Regions from separate parts of the Homo sapiens genome. Here region 1 is linked to region 2. The links come from fine-mapping of genetic effects on gene expression. A gene starts in region 2. The other region holds a variant in brackets. All regions are shown on one strand. Distances are between the middles of the regions. Region 1 has its middle 7.7 kb from the start of TBC1D1. Region 2 holds the start of PGM2 (phosphoglucomutase 2).

Evidence for each region. PIP is the estimated chance that this variant, and not a neighbour inherited with it, causes the effect. A credible set is the group of variants that fine-mapping cannot tell apart.
Region 1: its variant is the best candidate, but not a certain one, in a credible set for the expression of PGM2 in whole blood (TOPMed, PIP 0.86).

The regions. Positions count from the first base shown.
Region 1 is chr4:37,880,653-37,886,035 of GRCh38, forward strand. No RefSeq gene overlaps it. Among named protein-coding and RNA genes, the nearest start is that of TBC1D1, 7.7 kb to the right of the region's middle. RefSeq lists an enhancer at 636-1,136. The variant A/T (reference allele first, on the strand shown) is at 2,733.
Region 2 is chr4:37,823,696-37,829,078 of GRCh38, forward strand. PGM2 (phosphoglucomutase 2) reads left to right here and starts at 2,991. Exons shown (of 14, transcript NM_018290.4): 1 at 2,991-3,118. The coding sequence starts at 3,038. RefSeq lists enhancers at 1,460-1,629, 2,662-3,163, 3,164-3,663 and a silencer at 2,874-3,173.

The DNA of each region.
Region 1 (5,383 bases), 57 kb after region 2:
TGTCTGTATTTCCATATAATTGGTTACTTAAAGGAGAATTTTATATAATTGGCTATATAATTGGTTACTTAAAGGAGAACTTCTCTTAAAGGAGAATGTCATCCTACATTTTATATTTAGCAACAAAAGAATGAGAAGAAGGCTGAATGTCTGTACCCAGCCTTCCATATAATTTGTAGCCAATTACATGGAAATACAGATATCAACATATATTTTTAAAAGCATGATATCATAACATATGAACTTCATTATTAATGTATTTTATTTATTTTATTTTAGGCATTTACAAATATTATTCTGAGGAAGGTTCCATAGGCTTCATTACACAGGCAAAGGGATCTATACTATAAAAATAGTTAAAAACCTTTGCCCTAGAGCAGGGTTAGCAAATTATGTCCTGCTCGCCAAATCCGGCTACTTGTTTTTGTATGACCCATGAGCTAAGAATGGATTTTACATTTTTAAATGGTTGGAAAAATTTTTTTAAAGAATATTTCGTGACAATGTGAAAATGCATGAAATCCAAATTTCAGCGTCCATACTCACTAGAACACAGCCATACTCATTTGTCTGCATAGCGTTTGTGGCTGCTTTTGCACTGCAACAGACTTTTTTTTTTTTTTTTTTTCTTGAGACGGAGTCTCACCCTGTCGCCCAGGCTGGAGTGCAGTGGCGCAATCTCGGCTCACTGCAACCTCTGCCTCCCGGATTCAAGCAATTCTTCTGCCTCAGCCTCTTGAGTAGCTGGGACTACAGGCATGCGCCACCATGCCCGGCTAATTTTTGTATTTTTAGTAGACACGGGGTTTCGCCATATTGGCCAGGCTGGTCTCAAACTCCTGACCTCGTGATCCGCCCACCGTGGCCTCCCAAAGTGCTGGGATTACAGGTGTGAGCCACTGTTCCCGGCCACTGCTACAGATTTGAAAGGTGGGACAGAGATGGAATGTCCTGCAATGCCTAAAATATTTACTAAATGGGCTTTTAGTAGTTTGTCAACCCTGAATTAGAAGAGAGTAAGGATGCTGAAGACAAGGAAGCTGTCTCATATTTCTTTGCATCACTTCAGTGCCTAGTTCAGAGCCATGGAAAGAATAGCTCATCTATGCATCTCTACTGGTTGAAAGACTACTAACCCCTTTGCGGTAACTACCTGCCACTTTGGAAATCTTGGTAAATTCTACCTCCCCCTTAATGATTTCTCTAAGCTTCCTATCCAAGGACCCACACTCTTTTGAGTAAAGGAGAACTTCATCCTACATTTCATATTTACCAACAAGAAAATGAGAAGGCTGAATGTCTCTAGCTCAGCTTTAATGTTAAAAGAAATTACAAAGTAATGAAGCAACCTCCCACTATAATGCTGTGGCACAATATGAATTATTATGCAATAGAAAAGTGAGCAAAAAGAGACTGCCCCGGAGCACGTTTCTTCAATGTGTGCTGATCAAGGAAACCTTGGTTCTGTGGATGCTCCCGAGAAGTTAAAGGGTCAGAGAGCCCCAGCTGAAGCGCAGCCCAACCAGGAACACCTCGCAATAAGGAATGTTATTCTGAAAGCCAAGGAAATAACCAGACTCTCATTTCCCCCACACAAATCAAAACACCTCCAAACATGATCACCCTCAAAAACATTAGTTTGAAAGGCAGTAATATGGTATAGACAAAAAGAATTAGGCTTGCTGACAGAATATCCAGGTTAAAACCCCAATTTCTCCCCCACAGGTTTTCTGCCTTAGGACAACTCCAACTCTCTATAATGAGGGAGAGAAATAACGTTTACCTCTGAGGGCTGCTGAGAGGGTTAAATAATATGAGATCTGTAAATTACAACACACTGTACACACTATACAGGTAGCATACAAGGTGGTAATGAGTGAGAACATTTGATGTAGTGTGGAGCTGCAGGCGAGTTGGTATGTTCTCTGCCTGTACAAGTCTGTTTATTCATTCATTCATTCACTCACTCACTCATATTTCTACCACATCCCAGGAATGATTGAAGATGGCTTAAATGTATTCACTTTTTTTGTAAACAAAAAATGATTCAAAGTGAATTAAGAAAACAGGACGAAAGGAGAGGGTAGTAGGTGAGATAGAATGATGCTAGGAATTAGGTAGAAACCACTGCTCCTAGACTTTGGATTTTCTGAACCAGTAACATTTCTCCAAACACTAGGAATTGACAAGGGGGCGCTATAATGTTCTTTTGCCAAGTAAAGACATTATAAAACAAGCACAAAGCAATGGATCTCACCATATGGTTCTCACCGTAATTTCATAAAAGAAATACTTATTTGTTAGTACCTATAAGGTAGGAAGAACATGATCTCAGAAGACAGAGAAGTTCAGTTTGCTTTTATGAAGTTACACATTGTTATTTATAGTTTGTCTTGGATAGATGAAAAGTGGCACAAACTGGCAATGGCTTGGAAAGGGCATTTGTGAATCACTGACTTAGCACACAAAATGTCCTGGATGCCTGCCAAGCAGTGAACCCCAAACGGTCAGTGCAAGGATGGAGATAAAATCAGTTGCTCAAGGAAAGAAAAGTTTTTCTTAGTGGAGTCCTAGGAGAAACTTTTTCTTGGATTCTCTTTAAAAGGACACTGTGTAAGGTATTAATAAACACCCTCAATAATATCTTCAGACTGAATAGAGTATTTTTATAAAATGCATTCCCCCACTATGGACCAATGGAATAATATCAAAGTGAAACTCAGTAAAAAAAA[A/T]TTTTCTGGATACACTCCAGGCAAATGGATCTTCACTTGGGTTGATCTGATAAGGAACTGATTTTAGGGGATCCAGATTTTAGAGGACCAGTTGAACTGCATTATCTTTCATGCTGGTCTCCAAGGTCATATTTTTCTCAACCAAACTTCTAACAAACTTTGACTGCTGATGAGTTCTCAGTTGTTCCTGATTCTAAAGTCCTTCTATAGTATATCTGAAATTAGAGTCTATGTTGATGGTTAAAGAAGGAGTCACATGCTTCAACATTTAGCTCACCTTGGGGGGAACTATTGACATACCTCTTAGGACAGTTGAGAAATCTAATGAGCTGTCAACAAGAGGAAAACCTAGAAATTCTAATCTAATGGATAGTACTTCTATAGATAGTACTTCTAATCTAATAGATAGTATTTCTATTAGATTGGAATTTCTAGGCAAGAGGAAAACATAGAAATTCTAATCTAATAGATAGTACTTCTATTAGATTCTATTCTAATCTAATAGATAGTACTTCTATTAGATTCTATTCTAATCTAATAGATAGTACTTCTATTAGATTCTATTCTAATCTAATAGATAGTACTTCTATTAGATTCTATTCTAATCTAATAGATAGTACTTCTATTAGATTCTATTCTAATCTAATAGATAGTACTTCTATTAGATTCTATTCTAATCTAATAGATAGTACTTCTATTAGATTCTATTCTAATCTAATAGATAGTACTTCTATTAGATTCTATTCTAATCTAATAGATAGTACTTCTATTAGATTCTATTCTAATCTAATAGATAGTACTTCTATTAGATTCTATTCTAATCTAATAGATAGTACTTCTATTAGATTCTATTCTAATCTAATAGATAGTACTTCTATAGATAGTACTTCTAATCTAATAGATAGTATTTCTATTAGATTGGAATTTCTAGGCAAGAGGAAAACATAGAAATTCTAATCTAATAGATAGCGCTTCTATTAGATTCTATTCTAATCTAATAGTACTTCTATTAGATTCTATTCTAATCTAATAGATAGTACTTCTATAGATAGTACTTCTAATCTAATAGTATTTCTATTAGATTAGAATTTCTAAGCAAGAGGAAAACCTAGAAATTCTAATCTAATAGATAGTACTTCTATTAGATTAGAATTTCTAGGTTTTCCTCTCTTTCTATATAAAGACATGTATTGAACTCAAAAATGTTATATATTACAAATTATTTTTTTCATTCATTCATTCACTCAGCACATATTCATTGGATGCCTACTATGTGTTGGGCTCCATGCTGTGAGTTGAAGATACAGCAGCAAATAAAACAGACAAAATTCTCTGCTCCCATGGAAGGCGGAGGGGGAAACAAATGACAAATAAGATATACAAGTAACCAATATAGTACATTAGAAGGTAAATGCTATGGAGAAATATAAAGCAGGAAAAGGGATAAGGTGTGTGTGTGTGTGTGTGTGTGTGTGTGTGTGTGTGTGTAGGCGTAGCTGTGGTTTCCATTTTCAAAAACTTGGTCAGCAAGGCCTCATGGAGAAGGTGACATTTAAACAAAGTGAAGTAAGTGAGGGGCCAATGTGAATATCTGAGGGAAGAGTACACTTAGCAAAGGGAAGAGTAAATGCAAAGGCCCTGGGGCAGGAGTGTGCCTGGCAGCTCTGCATAACTGCAAGGCCAGTGTGGCTGGAGCAGAGTGAGTCAAGGCTGGTAGCAGGTGATAAAGGACAGAGGTAGTGGTGTGGCAGTTGAGAAAGAAGATCCTGTAGGACCCTCTAAACCATTATAAGGACTTTGACTTTTACTCCAGGGAATCTGGAAAGCCATGGGAGGATTCCAAGCCAAGCAGTGACATGGCCCAAATGATATTTTAGCAGATTCAAGTGGCTGCTATGTTAAGAATAGACTGCAGGGTGGTGAGGGCCGAATCAGGGAAACCAGTTAGCAGCTCCTGCATTCTAGGTGAGATTACACATTAGGTACCACCAATGGCATTTGGGGTAAAATGAAGTGGGGTTGCTGCAGGGTAGAGAGCTTAGTCAGCTTACCCAGTCTGAGTAAAATCATCGACATCCATAACTAGCTCTGACAATTTACAAAAAAATTCTCATTGACCTTAGACAAATTTAGATATCATAATTTAAAAATGACGTGCCATCTAACATTTGCCAAACTTTGTACTTGGTGCCCAGACCCACGGAACCAGCTCGGGTGGAAAGTGAGAACCCCAAGTAAAGGCTGGACATCGTCAGAGAGCTGCGTGGAGCAGTTGCTTGTGTAGAGCAATGACAAATAGGAGAGGTTGCTGGAAAAGGAAGTGGAACCAGTGCCCAGAGTTTTATCTGCTTTGTCCATAAAAGGAGATTAGATACTTCACAGAAGCCTACTCTGGGGCTTAAGTATACAGTCCACCCATTCTCTCACTGCATTGATTTACCGTTGTCTCTTGCATTGTAAGCGTGAGTTCTTCGTGCAGTAAAATTTTTGTTTATTTCAATTGCTGAAATTCTAAAATCTATGTTGGCTATCTGCTCATTTTAATTTTTTGCATCATATTTTATTAATCTTATGCCTTTCGGAAAGCAATTTCAGGGATCTAGTATTGCAGACAATTGGATGTAATATAGTCTCTGACTTTGATTTTCATT
Region 2 (5,383 bases):
TGTGATTCTCCATGTCCTGCAATTTTTTCCAGAGCATGACTGAGAAGAAGGTTTATCTGGTGCAGAGAAAAGAGATAGCCTGAGTGTGGTGGACCTGCAGACCACCTAACATTTGGGGAAACTGAGGCAGACTGTCCTTCTCTTCTTCTCTGTGCTCCAGCCTCTCAGGTTTTGCAGTCAGGGGAAGGACCACACTCTCACATTAACTACATCCTTCCCTCACATCTCTCTTAAGCTTCCAGTGCTCAGGCAAGCTTCCTGACTGAGGTGGCCTCTGTTAACCTGCAGCCTCATGACATCTCTCTGCTTTCCTTCCAGCATTTTATCAGTTTGTAATTACGTATTAACTGCCGTGATTACATGATTAGTATGCCTTTCCCATGACACTAAACAGATATTACAGATCCTGGATATATATTTTTTCTTTTTAAAATTGAAGAACACACTAGCCGGGCGCGGTGGCTCATCCCTGTAATCCCAACACTTTGGGAGGCTGAAGTGGGCAGATCACTTGAGGTCAGGAGTTCATGACCAGCCTGGCCAACATGGCGAAATCCGTTCTCTACTAAAAATACAAAAAAAAAAAAAAAAAGTCTGGGCCTGGTGGCTCACACATATAATCCCAGCTACTCAGGAGGCTGAGGCAGGATAATCACTTGAACCCAGGAGATGGAGGTTGCAGTGAGCTGAGATCCCACCATTGCACTCCAGCCTGGGTGACAGAGCAAGACTGTGTCTCAAATAAATAAATAAATAAATAAGCCGGGCATGGTGGCACGCCCCTGTAATCCCAGCTACTCAGGAGGCTGAGGCATGAGAATCTCTTGAACCCAGGAGGCAGAGGTTACAGTGAGCCGAGATCACACCACTGCACTCCAGCCTGGGTGACAGAGCGACACTGTGTCTCAAAAAATAATAATAAAATAAAGTTGAAGAACATACGGAAAATGCACAACTCATAAGATTGCAGCTTAGTGAATATTACAAAGTCAACACACCTGTTGACCATCGTCCAGGTCAAGAAACAGAACAGTCCCGGAACCCCAGAAGGCACTTTCCCTCCTTCCCAAAGCTACCACTCTGCTGACATCCATAGGTTAGTTTTGCCTCCTTTTTAGTTTTTAATCTTAAAACTTAAAAAAAAGAGATATAACTTACATACAGTGAATTTTACCCTTTATATCGTACAGTTCTATAAGTTTTGATAAAAGTAAACCCCAAACTCAATCAAGATACGGAACAGTTCCACAACTCCCTCAAATTCCCTTGTGCCCTAGGTAGTCAACCCCTCCCCCAACCCCCAGCTCTTGAAAATCACTGATTTGTTTCCTTTACCTATAATTTTATATATTTCAGTGTTTTTTTTTTTTTTTTTTTCAGGGTCTCCCTCTGTCTCCCAGGCTGGAGAACAGTGGCACAATCAGGGCTCACTGCAGCCTCGACCTCCCAGGCTCAAGCGATCCTCCCTCCTCAGGACTCCCTCCAGCTCCCCCACCACGAAATAGCTGGGACTACAGATGAATGATGCAGTATTTTGGGGTGACGGGGTATGGGGGTGGGTGTTTGAACTCTGTCACTCAGTGTTTGTGAGATTCATTCATGATGTTGTGTATAACAGTAGTTCACCTGCATTGCTCTATCAATGTGCCATGATTTATTTATATGAATTGGTATGGATATACTACCAAGTATTTATCCATTGTATTGTCGATGGTCATCTGGGTTGTTTCCAGTTTGAGGCTTTTACAAATAATGCTGCTAGAAATATTCTTGCCCGTGCTTTTTTATGCTTATGGGTATGCATCTTCTTTATGGCTTGGTGATACCAGCGTCAGGAAGATGTGCTCCTATGTTAGTTTCCCTAAGTTTCACGCTACTATGGAAAGAGACCACCATTTCTGCTGTCCTTCCCAGCTTCTCCCCCACCTCCCCTTTTCCCTAGTTTATAAGACAGGAGAAAAGAGAGAAAGCAAAAAGTTGGAAAAAAACAGAAGTAAGATAAATAGCTAGACGACCTTGGCGCCACCACCTGGCCCTGGTGGTTAAAATAATAATAATAATATTAACCCCTGACCAAAACTACTGGCGTTATCCGTAAATTCCAGACATCGTATGAGAAAGCACTGTAAAACTTCTTGTTCTGTTAGCTGATGTATGTAGCCCCCAGTCACGTTCCTCACGCTTACTTGATCTATCATGACCCTTTCACGTAGACAGACCCCTTAGCGTTGTAAGCCCTTAAAATGGCTAGGAATTTCTTTTTCAGGGAGCTCGGCTCTTAAGACGCGAGTCTGCCGACGCTCCCGGCCGAATAAAAACCTCTTCCTTCTTTAATCCGGTGTCTGAGGAGTTTTGTCTGCGGCTCCTCCTGCTACACTACCTTTCGCACTTAGAGATACAATTGATCTGGAGTTCAGAGCTGTGTGTGATGGGAGGTAGGGGGCCAAGTTCCCTTTTTTCTTTTCCCTACGTGGATATCCCTTTGACCGAGCACCATTAACCAAAAATAGTTCCTTCCTGTGCTCTGCAGCCCCGCCTCTGAAATAAATTGTCCATACACGTGTATTTTTGTTTCTGGTCTCTATCTTATGTTCCACTGGTCTTCCTACTTTGCTTTTCTTTTTCAAGATTTTTTTCTGGCTGTTCTTGACCCTCTGAGTTTCTACATAGTCTTCAGGCCCCTATCTGGGTGCACTTCCTGGTATCCCAGCATCTGACATGTGCCTGGCGCGCAGCAGGAACTCACGGCTGGCTGTAGCCTGGATGCATCAGAGACGATGGCAAACCCTTCTCACACGTGCCAGGTTCCAGCAACCCACCCTAGCCCCGCAATTCCTCCTCGCTCACTCCCACCCCCTGCAGCGCACCCGCAAACGGCAAGGAGGCGTGCCCGCCGCGGCGCGCGTCACTTTCCCCCGGACCGACTGGCTCCGCCGCGGCTCTCCCCGCCCCCGCCTCCGCCTCCACGTCTTGGGGCCGGGCCGGAAGGCAGATCTCACCGCCTGCTTCCCTCTGCAGCGGTAGCACAAGCTCAGCGATGGCGGCTCCAGAAGGCAGCGGTCTAGGCGAGGACGCCCGGCTGGACCAGGAGACCGCCCAGTGGCTGCGCTGGGACAAGGTGAGGGGCACCAGCAGGCGGGGAGCGCCTGGAGCGGGGCCGGGTGCTCTGCCCTCTCCAGGCGCGGCGCTGCTTGCTCTGCCTGAGCTGCCTTCCCGCCCAGTGCATCCCGCTTCTCCCCCGGGAAGACCCAGGAGCGTACGGCCGCTGCTAGGCTTCCTTCGACCTGGCCGGCATGCGGCACGTTCAGAGTTAGGCCGGGAAGGCTTGTCCCCGGACGAAACCAGCCATCCGGCCGGCCGGACTGCAAGTTCGGAGTAGAGGAGCGAGCCAGGGTGGTGTAAGCGCGGCCAGACCCTGGACGCTGTCTAGTTGAGGGGCGCACGCCTTACTGTCACTCAGACCGCTGGCTCGTCGTCGGTAGTCGGCTGTGCATCCCCATGGACCCAGAATCGCTCCGTCCCGCGTATTCCTTTGGCCGCTGAGACCTTTGCAGAGCAGCGTTCTGGTCCGGTCCTCCCATCCCGAGGGCTTGGTTACAAACGTGGGTTGTCCTCCCGGGTGGGCCCGCCTGGCTTCAGGAGTCCCCCTTAGAACTTTGACTGCCAGGGAGGCACACCTGGGACACAGCACGGTTTTCTCTCTCTTCATTCCGTTTCTTAGAATCAGGAACCCAGCTCTGGACATCACTCCCTCTCCTCTCTATAAACTTGCGTCTCGCCCTTTCGACCTGTTCTGCTTGCTGTTAGGTTTTCTCGGAATGTCCCTCGCTGCTCTCCTGCTGAACTTGTTTCTCCCGTTGTGACTCATATTTTGTGCCTGAACTTAAATGTGGCTTACGTAGAGAGTCAGTCCTTCCTTGGCTCCGAAGCGTTAAATTATTTATCCCTAATATTCACTCTAAACAGTCTGTTATTTTCCTTTATAGCTCTTACTACAAATGGTAAAAACAAAAAACTCCAAAAACACTTGTTTGTAGGTTTGTTTAATGTCTGTCTCCAGGGCCGACTTCAGGGGCGAGAGACCCCTGCAGTCTCACAGGACTCGCGCTCCTTGAAGGGCCCACTGTTGTTTTAATGTCCTGCTGTCCTGTCTTGAAAGTCTTACTGGTAAAACAAGAGGTCACCCACTTTCATTGTGCACTGGACCTCCATAAATTATGTGGCCAGGCCTCTCTATTCTCACTACCTTGGTTTGTAGTGCCTGGCATAGGCATAGTGCATGACACATAGTAGGTCACTGAAATACTTGAATGAACAAAGAAGATTACAAGGTCAGTAGGGGTCAGGTCTTTGTCTTTATTTACCATTCTCTGGCCCCTACAAATAAAATGTCAGCAAATCCCATTTCCAGGATGCTATTGGCAACTCCTTGGGGGCGTTTTTCTTTTCCTGGGAAGATAACCTTGTGATTCACAAGGGAAGAAAAATGTTTCCATTTCTGATAACTTGTAGCTTGCAGAGTACAGAATTCTTTTGAAGTCAGAGTTCATAATGCACTTTCTCTAAGAAGAAGAAGAAAACAATCTAATTTCTACACAGTGTTGCATCTGTGTATAGAAAAATTGTATTTCTCTGGGTAGAGATGAGATGTCCTTTTTTTTTTTTAATCACTTCTCATGTTCTATCCTCTGTTAATTTCTTCTTTGCTTTGAGACTGGCACCTGAGAAGAAGCCCATTCATTCTCCAGTGAACCTCCCACCAGCTAAAAGCATTGCAGCCCTCTAGTCAGACTACCCCCGGCGACTGGCAAGGCGCCCTGGCAGGTGCCCTCTGTCTTTCCACCGTGCCTTCATCCCTGCTCTTTTCTCTGCTGTCAGTTTTGCTCACTGCCAGGGCTGATTCTGATCCTGCTGTACTCTTGACTTGTCATTCTTACCTGTCTGTCTCCTTTGTTTCTCTCAGGCTACTTAGTCTTTCATAGATATCAAAGACCAATTAAGATTTTCCAGACCTACACTATGAACAAGGGAGGATCACTCGATATTGAGTGTGGCAGTGAAGTCCATGTTTTCTGATTCACTCCACTAATATTTATTGAGGCTCTTTTATGAGCCTCTTTTATGTACCTGATCTGAGCCTTTCTTTGGGGCACCTGACAATCTGATAGGTAAGACTGTGTTCTGTAATTAGCATCTGCTGTTTTTCACCAAAAAAGATGGGGTTTACTTGATTCCCATTGAATCTGCCACAATCTGGAAATGTGGGCTTAATTCCAGAAAGCCAAGGTTTTATTGCAGTAGTATTTCAAAGTTTAATTAAATGGCCACGTCCTGCGTGAGTGCTCATCTAAATGGATAATGACTGTAAAACAGGAATATAAAG